Linked DNA regions of Homo sapiens: region 1 is linked to region 2. The links come from fine-mapping of genetic effects on gene expression. Tissue or cell type: blood mononuclear cells. Region 2 holds a variant in brackets; the other region holds the start of a gene. All regions are shown on one strand. Distances are between the middles of the regions.

The links. PIP is the estimated chance that this variant, and not a neighbour inherited with it, causes the effect.
Region 1: CAB39 starts here. The variant in region 2 is fine-mapped to the expression of CAB39 in blood mononuclear cells (TOPMed, PIP above 0.99). The same link has a PIP of 0.9 or more in lung.

Annotation. Positions count from the first base shown.
Region 1 is chr2:230,708,938-230,717,119 of GRCh38, reverse strand. CAB39 (calcium binding protein 39) reads right to left here and starts at 4,278. Exons shown (of 9, transcript NM_016289.4): 1 at 3,890-4,278. It overlaps LOC124907996 (formin-like protein 16), which reads left to right and starts at 3,794. Exons shown (of 4, transcript XM_047446832.1): 1 at 3,794-5,041. The coding sequence starts at 3,794. The coding sequence ends at 4,552. RefSeq lists a silencer at 3,567-4,506.
Region 2 is chr2:230,814,883-230,823,064 of GRCh38, reverse strand. It overlaps CAB39 (calcium binding protein 39), which reads right to left. Exons shown (of 9, transcript NM_016289.4): 8 at 5,168-5,311; 9 at 1,990-4,549. The coding sequence ends at 4,361. Among named protein-coding and RNA genes, the nearest start is that of ITM2C, 46 kb to the left of the region's middle. The variant AAG/G (reference allele first, on the strand shown) is at 4,291.

The sequences.
Region 1 (8,182 bases), 110 kb after region 2:
AGTCCCATTTCTGTAACATGTAAAGACGTTCATAAAATCAAATGCCCAATTAAAAGAAGCAATGAAAAAGAGGAAAATGAATTTTTATTTTTATTATTTTTATTTTATATATACATTTTTTGAGATGGGGTATCACTCTGTCACCTCAGGCTGCAATGCAGTGATCAAAATTCACTGAGGCTGCAAATTCCTGGGCTCAGGCAATCCCTCCTGCCTCAGCCTCTTGAGTAGCTAGGACAACAGGCACACACACCACCATGCCCGGCTAATTTTTTATTTTTGTGGATATAGGGTCTTGCTATGTTGCTCAGATCGGCCTCCAACTCTTGGGCTCAAGCAATCCTCCCACCTTGGCCTCCCAAAGCACTGGGATTATAGGAGTGAGCTACCCCGCTCGGCCTGACCTTTTAAAATAGGGCTGGAGGCCAGTGTGGTCAGGCCTATAATCCCAGTGCTTTGGGAGGCTGGGGCAGGAGGATGGCATAAGCCCAGGAGTTCAAGACCAGCCTGGGCAACAGAATGAGACACCATCTCTTTTAATTAAAACATTTTTTAAATTAAAAAATAAAATAGAGCTGGAATAGAAACAATGCCAGAAAGGTAAACAAAAGACAATACCTGAAACAAAATTCGTCCTACTACTGAATTTTATTTTTGGGGGTTGGGGAGGTTGGATTTGTGTATTTTCATGGCAGATGGCTAAACTGTGAGTGATTAGTCATCAATCTGGAAAAAAGGCTCTTGGGAAAGTATGGCAATAACTAAAGAAATCTGTAATCCCACAAAAGTTGATCAAAACAGAAAACTTTAGTAAATATTCCAAGGTAATAAAGACCCTGTGTGGCATACGTATTTGCAATATACAAACATTCAAATAAAATCAAGTTACCAAACCCCATACTTATACTGGACTTTCTTAGCAGTTCTTCTACATTAACTTTAGGAAACGTATACAGCCTTACTCAGCATCTTACTTCATACGTGATGAAACAGAAACAGAGATCTTATTAATACACCTTAGAATGTAAAATACATGGGAAAAAACTGACTTAGTACAAGAACCTGAAGTAGAAAATGCTAATGAAGGGAAGTAAGCTGCCTTGAAATAAAAAAACAGATATCCAGGCAAGCGTGGTGGCTCACGCCTGTAATCCCTGCACTTTGGGAGGACAAGGCGAGATTACTTGAGCCCAGCAGTTCAAGACCAGCCTGGGAAACATGGCAAGACCCTGTCTCTATAAAAATACAAAAATTAGCCGGATGTGATGGTACGAGCCTGTGGTCCCGTCTACAGGAGGCTGAGGTGAGAGGATGGCTTGAGCCCAGGAGGTTGAGGTTGCAGTGAGCCATGTTCGCACCACTGCACTCCGGCCTGAGCGACCGAGTGAGAACCTGTCTCAAAAAACAAAACAAAACCAAAAAGGCAAATACCACCCATTTGTTATAGTAGCAAACCATTTCATGAAATATTCTATGCTTATATCCAGCCTGAGTCTTCGTGATGTCATGTTCAAAAAATAGTTAACCTATATGGATGGCCCTAGTGTAGAGACTATTTTTCAGGAGCGAAGTGGGGAGTGGGAAGGGACACTGCATCGCCGTCTGTGGGGGATGGTATACCAGCCATGACAGTAATCTTTTGACAACATCCCTTTAAAAGTCCATTCACTCCTATAGCAGAGATCTGTGTGCTTTCTTCCTCTTCCACACCTCATGACAACACACATCCTGCCAAGAAAAACTTTATTCAACAAGCAAGAGGATCCAAGTCTTACAGAGAAAGAAACATACTTCAAACAAGAAACTTTCAGAAAAAGTTCTGTCCACACTAGTAGTTATTAAGCCTAACTACTGCATTTCATCTGAGGTAAATAATACAACCTTGTCAGGAAAACATAACATGCTTAGAAGACTTCCATTGTTGAGTAAAAATTTTTTATATGAAGATATTTAATGACAAGAAAAGCTTAATAAGAGATGTGTGTGTGTATACATATGCATACAATATATTTCATTATGCAAAGAAAAAATACACAGAAAAAGACTGGAAAGAAAATACGCAAAAATGTTAGCAGTAACCAAATCTAAGTGGTAAGATTATAGAAAATGTTTTAAAGATTTTCTAGCACTCCCTGAATTTTGGAAGCTTTGACAAAGATCATGTATTATTTTGAAAAGCAGAAAATTTTTAAACTGCAAAAAGGTGGCATTCACTTGTCATACACGCAAACAAGTGCAAGCTTACAAAACTTAGGCCCTAAGCTGCTTTCACAGATCGTATATTCTAGATTTCGAATACAGCTGCTAATTACTTCCTAACAATTTGAACAAACTACAAAATAAAGCTAAACACTTTCACTTCTGGCTCTACTATAAAGATTTCATAATAAAATAAAATATAAAAACAAAGTTTTACCTTTCTGTAAAAGGTCTACGTCTGGCTTTCTACAGCAGAATATTACTAACCATTTTTTAAAAATCATCAATTTATGTTATTTTACACAAATGCCACCTCAAAGAATGTAGGTTTAGCTTAGTAATTCCAAAGTACATACGCCTAATACAAAGTGCAAGAAGTTTTTATGCACTGTAGCGAACGCACAAATAGAAACACCTTCTGTGTGCAGATGAGCTTATTTTATAGACACCTTTCCATTACCTCTTAAGAGCCTGATATCTAATGAAGCTTTCTGCAAAGGTACTTTGCTTAGCCTGGGCATGGATTTACTTGATTATCTGGGAAGCTGTCAAAATCGATCTGAAACTGCATTACATTCAAGGCACAGAATGTCAACTCCTGACTGGGCCTCCTCCTCTCTCCTTTCACAAGAGCGCCTTTAATATCCCCTAGCCTACATTTCCGGGCTCATGAGTCACTGAGAAATGAGCTCTAAGTTTCTCTTAGAATGCTGCTCAAATAGCTCCTCTACAGCATTCAAGGATCTGGCCCCAAAATACCTCTTTAGCCCAATACCCCCCGCCCCCTGCACCATGCCAACAAACGGAATTATCCATGATTTCTAGGCTTTGTCTTCTCGCTTTTGCTACCCCTTCCACACACCTCTTCTGCAATCCTCCTCTCCTAAATCCCATCAGGCCTTCAAGACTCTGCTCAGCATCCCCCGCCCAGGAAGCCTTCCAGGTTTCTGCGAGGCAGAAGTGATCGGTTCGGTTTTTCCGGGTGCCGTTCTAGCACTCCGTCGTTCTTTCACAGGACTTATCACCTCCTTCCCGGTATCGCAGTTATTTGTGTTCTCGTCTTATCTCTCACACCAGAGCCTAAGCTCCTCGGGGGAGGGGACCGGGGCCCGCTTCACCTTTGAATCCCTCCGGTGCGGGCCGACTACGGCGCCTGCACGCAGTCTGCGCTTGGGGTGGTTCCATTGAACTCCAGAACGCTCCGACCGCCCAATTCCTAACCAGAAATCAGTTAGGCATTTTCCTGAATTGGTCACAAAGCTGGTATCTGCCTCCCGACAACAGGAAGTTTACCAGGGGCGGGAGCGAGGCGCTGAAGCCCGGGTGCAGCCGGTGACAGTTGACCCGGCCCGCACTTCCCCGCCCGCCCGACTCCGGCCCGGACCACCACGCGCCGCCAGCCCCGCCAGAGAACCACGGGGGGAGAGGCAGGAGCGCCTGGACTGCAGGCCCCCGGGCGCCCCACGCCGGCGAAGGCAAAGGGAGCGTCTCAGCGAGGGACCGGAGCCGAGCCGGGCGGAGAGGGCAGGCTGGGCCCGGCTGCTCCCGGGGGCTCCGGGGACAAGCTGGGCCGGGGCCGCCGCCACCCAGGAAAATGGAGGCAGCCCCGGGGCCGGTGAGGGCCCAGCGGGGCAGGCGGAAGCCGGGCAGGCGTCCGCACCACGAGCAGGGCCGGCCGGGGGTCACTCACGGGGCTGGGCCGGGCGTTCCCTTCTCTGCCTCCGCGTCGTCGCTGTCCCCGTCCTCGGCCGCCGCCGCTTCGGGCTGCTCGTTCGGTCCCCGCGGAGTGGCTCGGACGCTCGGCCCCTCCGTTGTCTTCCGCCCGCTCCTGCTCCCGGCGACGGGCTCCCGCGGCGGCGGCGGCTGCGCGGGCGGACGGCTGCCCAGGGGCTCCCGCGGCTGCCGCCGCGCTGCTGCGCTCGCTTGGGCTGCGGCTGCTGCTGTGGGGCCCGGCGCCGCCTTAGTCTTCGCCTGTGCCCCCGCCCCGGCGCCTGAAGGCTCTGTGTCTCCCAGGCCGCGCCGCTCCCCGAACCCCTCGCCCCGCTTGCGGCCCGAGCCCGGCTTTGACGTGCGCACTGCGCAGCCGCCGAGGACGCGACGTCGGGCGGTGCCGCAACGCCCCCTTCCGCCTCGGGCGCCCCCGAGCGGCCGGCGGACTCAGGGCGCCGCAAGTAGGCGCGAGGCCCGAGCGGGAGGGGCCGCAGAGAAAAGCAGAAGCCAAGCCCCGCAGTTCCTCTTCCTCCGCCGCAGCTTCCAAGGCGGGGCTCAGCCCTTTCTCCTCCGCCTGAGCGCTCTTACTGCGGGAATCGCACGCCCACTTTCAACGACCACTTCCTCAACTCTTCAAGCTTAATTCTGCGAGAGGCCGGGATCCCACTTTGTGCAGACCGATTCTTACTTTCTTGGAGCAGATCGCTTCATTTTAGCATCCAGGGGGACACAGCATCCAGGGGGACAAGTGCCAGAACGTTCCAGATTAATGGGAATATTCCTATTTAAATCAGCAACCTGGATTTAAGTCCTGCTCCACCATTTGCTATCTATGGGCTGTTTCACGTCCCTGTGCCTGGATTTCCTCACACATTAAAAAAAAAAGTGTGTAATAATATAGTGGTACCAGCCACGGGCTTCTGAGGATGAACGGGACAGTGCATTGCAAAGCTCTGACAACGGAGCCTGGCACATACAAATGCCATATGTGTGTATTTTTGTTTCTTTGTTTTTAATGTGTAACTGAACTACTTTTTAAGCGCCTCCTGTACGTCAGGGATGGGGCAGTGAGCGAAACAGTCCATGCTCCTAGCACAAACAGTTGACAAATAATTGACTAATAAACCTACAGGTATGTATAATACTGGACAATTGGGCCAGGCGCGGTGGCTCACGCCTGTAATCCCAGCACTTTGGGAGGCCGAGGTGGGCGGATCACGAGGTCAGGAGTTCAAGACCAGCCTGGCCAACACCGTGAAACCCCATCTCTACTAAAAATACAAAAAACAATTAGCCGGGCGTGGTGGCGGGCGTCTGTATTCCCAGGTACTTAGGAGGCTGAGGCAGGAGAATCGCTTGAACCCGGGAGGCGGAGGTTACAGTGAGCCGAGATCGCGCCACTGCACTCCAGCCTGGGCGACGCAGCGAGACTATCTCCAAAAAACAAAAACAAAACAAACAAAAAACAACAACAAAAAAACAAATACTGGACAGTTAAAAACACCACTGGGTGAGGAGGGGAGAGAAAGCAGGGTGTTGTTATTTACAGTGTTCATTCAGGGAGCAGCTTCCTGGAGAGAGAGAGCCTGGGAGCTTTCTGTATGGAAAGGCAGAGGGAATAGCAGGACCAAGGCCCTGAGGCGAGAATCTGCTGGCTTGAAAGCGGCCCCAGATAGGGGAAGAGATGAGGAAGAAGTGCGGCCCTACCAACCAAAGTTAGGACTTCCTGTTTTTACTCTCAAGGAGATGGGAAGCAATTTGAAGGGTTGCGAGCAGAGAAAGGACGTGGAATGACATTTCAGGAGGATCCCTGTGGCTGTGGTATGAGGACCAGACTGAAAGCCCTGAGGGTTTCAGCAGGGGGACCAGCGAGAAGCCTGTTGAAATCAGCCAGCCAAAAGATAAGACTGTCCGGCCGGGCGTGGTGGCTCGCACCTGTAACCCCAGCACTTTGGAAGGCCGAAGCAGGGGGATCACCTGAGGTCAGGAGTTCGAGACCAGTCTGACCAGTATGTTGAAACCCCGTCTCTACTACAAATACAAAAATAACCCCAGCTACTTGGGAGGCTGAGGCTGGAGAATTGCTTGAACCCGGGAGGCGGAGGTTGCAGTGAGCCGAAATCGCGCCACTGCACTCCAGCCTGGGCGATAGAGGGAGACTCCATCTCAAAAAAAAAAAAAAAAAAAAAAAAAGATAAGGCTCTGTCCAGGGTGGTGGCAGTAGAAGAGTAAAATGATCACCTGTAGACACGTTTAAAAGGTGGCTCACGCCTGGAATCCCAACACTTTGGGAGTCCAAGGTGGGAGGATCATTTGAGGTCAGTTCGAGATCACCATGCCCAACATGGTGAAACCCTGTCTCTACTAAAAACACAAAAATTAGCTGGGCATGGTGGCGGGCACCTGTAATCCCAGCTATTCGGGAGGCTGAGACAGGAGAATCGCTTGAACCCGGGAGGCAAAGGTTGCAGTAAGGGGAGATTGCAATGAGCCAAGATTGTGCCACTGCACTCCAGCCTGGGCAATAGAGCAGTACTCAGTCTCAATAATAATAATAATAATAAAAGGTGGCTCACGCTTGTAATCCCACCACTTTGGGAGGCAGAGGAGGAAGGATCACTTGAGGCCAGGAGTTGGAGACCAGTCTGGGCAACATAGTGAGACTCCTGTCTCTAGAAAAAAAAATTAGCCAGGCGTGGTAGCATGTGCCTGTAGTCCCAGCTACTCCAGAGGCTGAGGTGGGAGGATCACTTAAGCCTGGAGAGTCGGGGCTACGGTGAGCTGTGACTGTGCCACTGTCACTCCAGCCTGGGCCACAGAGTGAGACCCTGACTCAAGAAAAAAAATAAATAAATAAAGGGTAAAGCTAAAAGGATTTTCCTGATTTCTAATTTTTTTTTTTCTCAAGCAACTGGAAAATACAATTTGGTGATATGGGGAAAATTTAAGCAGAAACAGATGTGAAGGGAGGAACTTGGAAATTTACTTAGGGACATACAAAGTTTGAGCTGCCTGTTGGACACCCAAGTTGGAAGTTGGACTTAAGAGTTCAGAGGAGAAGTCCTGGCGCGGTGGCTCACGCCTGTAATCCTAGCACTTTGGGAGGCTGAGGCAGGCGGATCACCTGTGGTCAGGAGTTGGAGACCAGCCTGACTAACATGGTGAAACCCCGTCTCTAATAAAAATACAAAAATTAGCCGGGTGTGGTGGCGTGCGCCAGTGGTCCGAGCTACTCTGGAGACTGAGGCAGGAGAATTGCTTGAACCTGGGAGGCAGAGGTTGCATTGAGCTGAGATTGCGCCACTGCACTCCAGTCTGGGTGACAGAGCGAGACTCGGCTCAAAAAAAAAAAAAAAAAAAAAAAAAGAAGACTTCAGAGGAGAAGTCTGGGCCACAGACAGAATTTAGGTGGTTCTCAGAGTAGGTAAAACCTCTGAATTCAGTGAGATCCTTTAGGATGTGAGTGTTACTACTAAGCCCAGTCCCCCAACAATGACAGGTCAGGGAATGGTAAGGAACCAGCAAAGAACCCTGAGAGGGAGGAGCCAGTTTGGTAGGAAGAGATCCAGGAAAATCTGGCCAGGTGAGGGGGCTCATGCCTATAATCCTGGCACCTTGAGAGGCAGAGGCAGGTGGATCACTTGAGGCCAGGAGGTCGAAACTAGTCTGGCCAACATGGTGAAACCCCATCTCTACCAAAAATACAAAAATTAGCAGGGCGTGGTGTTGCATGGCTGTAATCCCAGCTATTCCGGAGAGTGAGGCAGGAGAATTGCTTGAACCCAGGAGATGGAGGTTTCAGTGAGCTGAGATCACACCACTGCCGTCCAGCCTGGGTGACAGAGGGAGACTATGTTAAAAAAAAAAAAAAGAAAGAGAAGGAAAGAAGATCTCAGGTGATCCACTCAGGTGATCTCTACTAAATACAAAAAATTAGCCAGGCGTGGTGGCACATGCCTATAATCCCAGCTACTTGGGAGGCTGAGGCAGGAGAATCGCTTGAACCTGGGAGTTGGAAGTTGCAGTGAGCCGAGATTGTGCCGTTGCACTCCAGCCTGGGCAACAAGAGTGAGACTCTGTCTCAAAAAAAAAAAAAAAAAAAAAAAAAAGCCGAGCACGGTAGCTCACGCCTGTAATCCCAGCACTTTGAGAAGCCAAGGCGGGTGGATCACCTGAGGTCGGGAGTTCAAGACCATCCTGACCAACATGGAGAAACCCCATCTCTACTAAAAATACAAAATTAGCCGGGCATGGTGGCATGTGCCTGTAATCC
Region 2 (8,182 bases):
AGGGGCTCTTGTGAGCTAAAGCTCATCTGTAAAACCTGTCAATCTTGTGCAGAATGTTGAAAAAATGTCACTCTTTTCCAGAAATCTCTGGGGTCTGTCTTACTACTGAAGTGCTACCTAGAAAAAATAATAAAAATTTAACAAATTGCAAAGGATGAAATCTTCTGCATAGAAACCAGGGGGTCTGGCTGGGGGTGGTGGCTCATGCCTGTAATCCCAGCACTTTGGGAGGCCGAGGCGGGCAGATCACGAGGTCAGGAGATCGAGACCAGCCTGGCTAACACGGTGAAACCCTGTCTCTATTAAAAAATACAAAAAATTAGCAGGCACCTGTAGTCCCAGCTACTCAGGGGGCTGAGGTAGGAGAATGGTGTGAACCCGAGGTGGAGCTTGCAGTGAGCCGAGATCGCGCCACTGCACTCCAGCCTGGGCGACAGAGCAAGATTCCGTCTCAAAAAAAAAAAATAAAAAAATAAAAAAAGAAAAGAAACCAGGGGGTCACGGTCCTTGGAGATTTAGCTCCCGGCGGACGTGCCCTCAGGTGGAACCTACCCCACCTTCCAGCCACAGTGGGGACGGACACTTGGCTGCCAGTTCTCAGACATGAGCAAGGTTTTAGAGGACACTGTAAGGGCACACACAACATGAAGGCCTCATATAGCTGTGCAGTGACACAGCCTTGTGCAACCACCACCATCCTCTTCAGTCAGCGTGAATGCTGGTGGCAGGATTCCTGGAGGTTCGAAAGCTTAAGATCCTTATTAGGCACTTCTTGGGTCTAAAGTGCTCGGTGGCGGAGGTGTGCTGGTTGACCGCAAGCAGACTGTCAACGGGTGAAAGCGGATGGTATTCGTAGAGAAAAGCTCCAGTGGGTCTTTCTGCAGTACTGAGATTGCTGACTGGGGAGAATCTTACCCTGTCCTTCATGTCTTCTGGAAACCAGATGGTCAGTGAGGACACAGCCATGGCCAGGGAGAAGATTCCTGACACATCCGGGAGTACCTGAAGGGCGGTGTGTGCTGGGCTGCCCGCTCTTCCCCTAAAGGACAACTTTGGCACGTTGGCAGGTGGGCTTTCTCATGACCGTGAGTGGCTCTAACCTCCAGCATGAACAAGGTATTGGGCACTGACTGCAGCCTCAGAGCACTTCCCGATCAGGACCTTGTTGGAGCCTAACTAGGAAGGCTGGGTGAGAACTGCACTACTCCTGAGCTGCCTGAAGTGCAACGTTCTGGAGCTTCTTTGGCAAGGGGAGGAGGGCATTTGATGGGGGATTGTGGTAGGAAGTGGAATTTGAGCTGAAGCGTGAATCCAGTCCTCAGCCTGGTGATCCTTATAAGTGGCCAAGTCACAAGTTATGACTTAATGGGCCCTTGTCACCTTTGGGGAACTACAACGTACAAGTAGACTGAACTACTTGACAGAAATAACAAATAGGACATTGTTATTCGGATGAAGTGTTTTTGGCAAGAGCATGTCCCTTGCCTTCACTCCAGAGAATAAGATTTCATTTACTGACAGGGGTTAAAGTCGAGGGCAGGGCTGTGAACTAAGGATTACGAGGCACCCTGGAAGGCAGACGAGGGACATTCTTTACGGTGCCAGAGTTCTTGTGCCTGCTTCCACGGTCCCCTCGCCTTCATGATCATTTCACATCAGTAACCTGTGAATACTCCGGGCCGAGTGTTCTAGTTTAGCCTCGCGGTGTTGCTAACAGCGCAAGAGAGGATCTACTCCTCAAACGTTAGGGTCTAAGAAATGGTACCATTAAAAGGTGTGATTTTACTCAGGAAGGGTAAGGAAAACATGAGCACGGGGGCGGTGGGGGGGAAGTGAAGCCCCTGAACAGGGAAAAAGGCAGACAGGAATGGGTGTTAACTGTCCCTCCACTTTCAGTTGGTGATAAAATTCGGGCTTGTGTGTCTCCTGATGAAGCTGTTCACAGTAACACAAATGCAACTGTCTATAACACATCATAAAGACAGACAATGCTGTTTCTCCAAAATTTTATTTTAATTTAAATTACAGGGCCAGCCAGATATTCTGATAAGAAATTCACTTTTCCTTAGGAGAAAGAAAATGCTTTCATGGCATTGTTAACAAATGTATACATCTCCACTTTTTTAAGGGTTAAAAATCACATTAAGTAACTGCCTTATGTAAAATTAAACCTTTATAACACAAAAACCACTTCCAGTATAATAGTCTTGGTAATATGAATATATTAAATGATCATAACTTCAAATGCAACATTTCAAACTTAAATGTTTTCACATTGTTTTGCTTAAAAACAAAACCCACGAAGTCTGAACTACCTTCAGATTCCAATGTAAGAGTAACATGAATGTTGTGTCTGACACGCTGCACCCTCACTTCTTCCACCTAAAAGGCTACGACCTCACTGCCAAAGTGGAAGCTGTTCTAGATGTGTAAGTTCTAAGAATGAGCTTGGCAAGAAGACGTTTCTTCCACTTGGTGTAATCCATGTTTTTACACTAACTCCATACACACAGCACTACACCACAAAGCCAGGACACCACATCACGGCCAAGTCTTCCTTCCTAAACATCCAAGAGATTTTTTTTTCAAGGAGACTAGATTGCCTTATTTCACACAGATTCTGGTAAAGACAGTCTTGAGAAATGCCAATTATGATGTAGACTGCCATTTTAATAAAAATAAAATATATCTATATTTTCTGGAGCTATTTTCCTAACTGGTGTTCCTGAAGGTTTAAAACCTGCTGAAACAGCAATTGGGAGGCCCATTTTACTGGCCAGTATATAATTCCATTAGTAAGAGAGGCTAGCAAAGAATAATCATATCAATTTCTTAATCAGCTGCAGCCATGCTGAATTTGAACTGGCAAACTCTGATTTGTCAGTTGTTAGTTGTGATCTTCATATCACTAAAATGAACAGATACCATTCTAATAACTTTACATAGATATAGTCTAGAAGACATTGTTCTGCCGTGGTCACAGTAACAAAAAAGTGGTGCAAAATCAGTTACTTTATAAATACTGATAATTTGCAGCATTAAGGAACAGGACATTAAAAAAAATAAATTTCCCCATAGGACACCTATGACTAGGAAGTCGTCTTTTCCTAAGAGAAGCCAAAGTTTTAATTATTCAGTTCACAACTATTGTACTGGGTTACTTAGTCTAAGAAAGAAAAGGTGCTCTACAGAGATTTCCCACACACACAAAGAATCAGCATTAATTTAGCATAATCTCTATCATTCACAGATCTGGCAGATTCATTAACTCATTTAAAATGAATAAGGCCAATAGGATGCAGGAAGGTGTGGCTGACTGAGCTCCAGGGCTGTATCGCAGCTTATTGATGGCACCCCATTAGGTAACTGAATACAAAGGACTGGTTTACTTTCTTTTTCTTTTAATGCTGTGATACTTAAATGTTAAATCAGCATTTTCATGTGATCTGAAGTATTTCAATTACATATGAGCATTCATTGTTTTTTGCAAAAACTCAGTATTAGGTAATAGTTACATACTACTACAATAACATTCCTCTGCTGTACAAATTAAACCATTTAAAAGAAATGAGCATTCTAAGAATTATATACAAAAGAAACCTTGAAGCAGTGTTGAAATGAAATGCAAGGTGTCATTGCTAGCTCTACTGTTTTAAAGTATCTTTGAAAAGTAAAATTAACAAATACCCTTCAACATATCCAGGTTTACAAGTCTCAAGAAAATCAAATGTCAAAAAATTCTAGAAAGCTGTGAAAAGCATATATACATTTTCCTTATGATCTTATGAGGCTTCTTTACACTTTTAAGAAGTTGCTAAGTTTCAGTATCAATTTATTCGCATGTCAACTTTAGCTGCCCCCAAACTCCCATTTTGGATAGCTCCCCTCTGATTTCAGATAAAGCTCTGCGTCATCTTCCTTCAGCGAAGGTGCGCGACCTGAAGGTGCGCGATCTGACGCAGGGATGCCAGGTGTGCACTTGCCACACTGCACTCAGATCGCCAACAAAGATGGGTGCAAACACATAGGTCTAATCTGATATCAGTGCCCTCTTTCCTAAACCACACTCTCATCCATACATTTGCCTTCATGAACCCAGCCATGTTCAGAACTCCCGTAGCACAGTCTTTGAATTCTGAAATGACACAAAGATCAAGAGAAAGCCCACATGTGCCCTAGTGTGCAAGCAGCAGCAGCTACGATCTCCAACCTGGACTGAAAAACAAAAGGGTAAAATGAAAAACCGTTCACTTAACAGCAGATTAGCAGTAATGTTCCTCATGAATCAAT[AAG/G]AGTGCCTGATGCTGAATAGCTAACAGCAAATGCTGAATTTGGATTTAACATAGATGTTTATTGGAGATTAAGCTTCTTGCTGAGCTGGTCTCTTCAAATCCCTGATCTGTTTAACTAAATAGGTCTTCTCGTCGTTAAACTGCTCATCCTCCGTCCTGTCGTTCTGAAACTTGCTGAGGAACTCTATGAGTTTGGCCTGGTTCTTGAGGAGGATGTCTAGGATGGGCTGCGTCTTGTTAGGATTGGCTACAAACACCTGCGTGGAGAGAAACGCACATGAGGCACAGAGAAAGGACAAAACGCAGCCACACCTGAGCTGCGGCCACAGTGCAGAAAAGCAGAGCTGTGCTCTCCTGGGATGGCGCTGAAGTCAGGGTCATTAGGTTTTGCTTTAGAAGGCGTTATTTTACAATTTGGAAAAAAAAATAATAATTACATGTTTTAACACAAATACGACTGATAAACTCATTCTGCCAGCCCTGCAACACAGTGTTTAGTATTAAATACAGACTTTGATTTTAGAATAAAATGGGCAGAAATTATTTCTCAGCACAAGAGGTCAGATGGGATTTTAAGAATGAAACCTCCACAGAAAGCATTAAGAAATGCTTTTGTTTTGCAGTTACTAATCTTCTAGGCCAAAGATAAATGACACTCTTCTATGAACAAACCTTCTCGTTCCCAGATCCAAACAGTAACCCGTTTCCAGGTCTACCTTTCTGTTTAAAAGTCATAGCACACAAATATGAAAAGTGACTGAATTTAATTAAGTCACCTGGATTACCAGAGTGAGGCTAATAATTTCCGTTATTTGCGAATGAAAGACGACGAACAATTCCAGTGGACAGTATCACTGATGCTTCTAGTACTCTACCTTAAAAACGTGAAAGGCCTCAAACTGGATGTTGCGACTTTTGTCTCGCAGCAGGTTCATCATTAATTTGAGGTTCTCAGGTTTACTGATGTATTTTGTCATAATTGTGAAGTTGTGTCTATCTAGTAGTAGTTCACCGAGAAGCTGAGAAGACATTTAAACAATTACCTTGTTATTAAAACTTAAAGAAAAATCAAAGTTTAAAAAAACAATTTATTTTATAATCATCAAGTATAGAGTATTAGTAGGCACTCAAAAGACCGAAGAACTGAACTGAATTACAACCTAAAAGCTACGAAGGGCCTTCTCTCTGCCACCTGAATGCCTTCCTCCCTTTCCCTGAGAGATGAAGTCTACGGGAGGCCTGACGCTTCTCTCTGCAGAGGATGTTCAAGATGCCCCCTTGGCCCCAGTGGGAGACTCTCAAAGCCTCCCCTTTAAGCGTGCATTTGTGTTAGCTCACTAAAAAGAAACTATTCAAGAAAATGGTCAAAAGTTATTGATTATTCCTGTTAACTAACCACAAACCTTAGCTTAATTTAAAACAACTATTTTTAAATTTTATTTAGCGGGACTTTCCAAGATAAAGGGTTTTGTGTCCAAAGTTTTCCATTTGTGTACCCTGCACATGCCACAGTTATCGTTTTATCACAGCTAATTCAGAAAGGTTTACACAAGTGAGTATTTTTCTGCTCCTTCTTAGGTCTCCTGAAGATAATCCAGTGTTTTCTTACTGACCCCTCACCATCACTAATTATACCAATTAATGCTAAAAAAACATCTGTTTACTTCAAGGGTTTACTAATTTCTGGAGAGTTGGTTATATCATATAAACTCATAACTTTTAAACTGTCACGGCTTACTCTTTCCTAAAACCAGCAGTCACTTCTTCAGGTTGTCAACATGCCAACAACCTGGCCAAGGCTGAGTGTGCAGAGCCGGCAGTGGGGCAGGTGCCAAGCTGCGGTCCTTGTGGGCGGTGGCAGAGCTGTGGAGAGCTTGGTCCCTGGTGCCAGCCTGCCTGGGTTCCAATCCTGGCTCCCTACTTCTTGTGAGCTCTGTAATCTTGAGCACGTTACTGAACTCCTCTGTGTCTCGGTTCCATCATCTGTATAATGGAACAGTGCCTCTCTCTCAGGAGAGTGCAGTGAGAAACGAGCATCAGTGTGCAAAGCACGTATCAGGCCTGTATCTGCAGAGATGTGAGTGAGTGAGGGCTAAGGGAAGAAAAGGCGCAAATAGCGGCTCTGTGGCTTTGCTTTAATTGCTTTTGTTGCTTCCTTTCTGGGTTTCTGGCTATGTTCTAGATACTTGAAGTTTCCAGGTAACTGATCTCTGGATAAGTAACTTGTCATCATATTAAATAAAAAATGAGCTGATGTACAAGAAAACAAATCTATTTTACTTAGGCTTTATAAGGAACTCATAGGAAAAACTGAAAGGAGTAGGCTTCATATCAATGTGAATCACAAAATCTATTCTTACGGTGAGAAGCAACCAGTATCTTACAAAGACTGAAAAGTTAGTATTATGTGATTTATAGCTTTCGTGTTCTTTTTCTATCACAGAAACCAAAGAAAATCTGAAGGAAGATGACTTCAAATATGTAATTCTTTTTTTATTTTTTGAGATAGTCTCACTCTGTCACAAAGGCTGGAGTGCAGTGGCACAATCTTGGCTCACTGCAACCTCCACCTCCCGAGCTCAAGTGATTCTCATGCCTCAGCCTCCCAAGTAGCTGGGACTACAGGCTTGTGCCACCACACCTGGCTAATTAATTTTTGGGGCTAGAGACAGGGTTTCACCATGTTGGCCAGGCTGGTCTTGAACTCCTGACCTCCATCCATCCACCCACCTTGGCCTCCCAAAGTGCTGGGATTACAGGCGTGAGCCACCATACTCAGCCCAAACATGTAATACTTTACTAAAAAACTTGGGAGTCTTGCATAGGGAATATAAATTTGCTGGCGACATAAATATGGGAATAAATAAATGCCAATGTGGCTACGAAAAAGAGAGTACAAATTAAAATCCATCTTTAAAGTACGGCTGGTGCTGAAGCCGCTCCATGTGTTCATGGGGCACTCACAGGCCCACCGCTAACATAAACTGCAGGAGCCAGCAACTTGCTTTATATCCATTCCTAAGGGCTTGGAAATGGTGGTCTCAGCCTTTCTTTTCATGTTGGTAATTCTGAATGGCAGAAGGGTCTTGAAGGCCTTTCTCCTTATCCAAACAGCCCAAGAATCCAACATTTGGTCAAAGTTTATGGATTTGCCAATAACCTCCACCCTGCACCCCCGGCCCCAGCTTCCTCCCACAATGGCCCTAGAAGCTACTAACCTAGGCTATCCTGTCTGGCCTTTGTGGCCTTAGAAGATACTGACTCCAGTGAACTGTGTGCATCTGTATAACTGCTGGCAAGAGTAGTATACCTCAGCCCTTTGAGGATCACAGAGCAGGAGAGGCCCCAGGAACCTCCACTCTCTCACACACTGATGTCCAGGGAGGAGAAACTCCTCCCACAGCTGCCAGGAAGTTCTGTCCAACCCCCCAAAGATGAAAGGACAGCAAATGATCCTCTAAGCCAGGGAAGGTGGGGCCCAAGCAACAGCAATGAATGGAAAGCAAGGGGCCTGGCTGGACTGTGCCTGTTCCCCAGCTGTGGCTGTCACGGATGCCCTGCTGCAGGAATTACAGCCTTACACGGAAAAAAGGCATATGCTGTTCTGAAAGAAAGTGCTGATTGAAAATGTGGACGGTGGAGTGTTCCTATCAAAGGACACAAAGTATTCCAGATGCTCCTAGTGTCCTTTAGTCTTTTCCACAGAAAGATAAGGTCTTCAAGGGAGATTTCCCCACGGTAGGAAGGGGATGAGTGGATGGAATCTTGGTCATTATCGGTCCAGACACCCATGAGGGGAAGAACTCTGGGCAGAGTCAAATTTTAAATGGACCTGGCAAAAAACTGAATGGAATTATGATTTTCCCCTCAAATCCTTTGTGATTTCATCT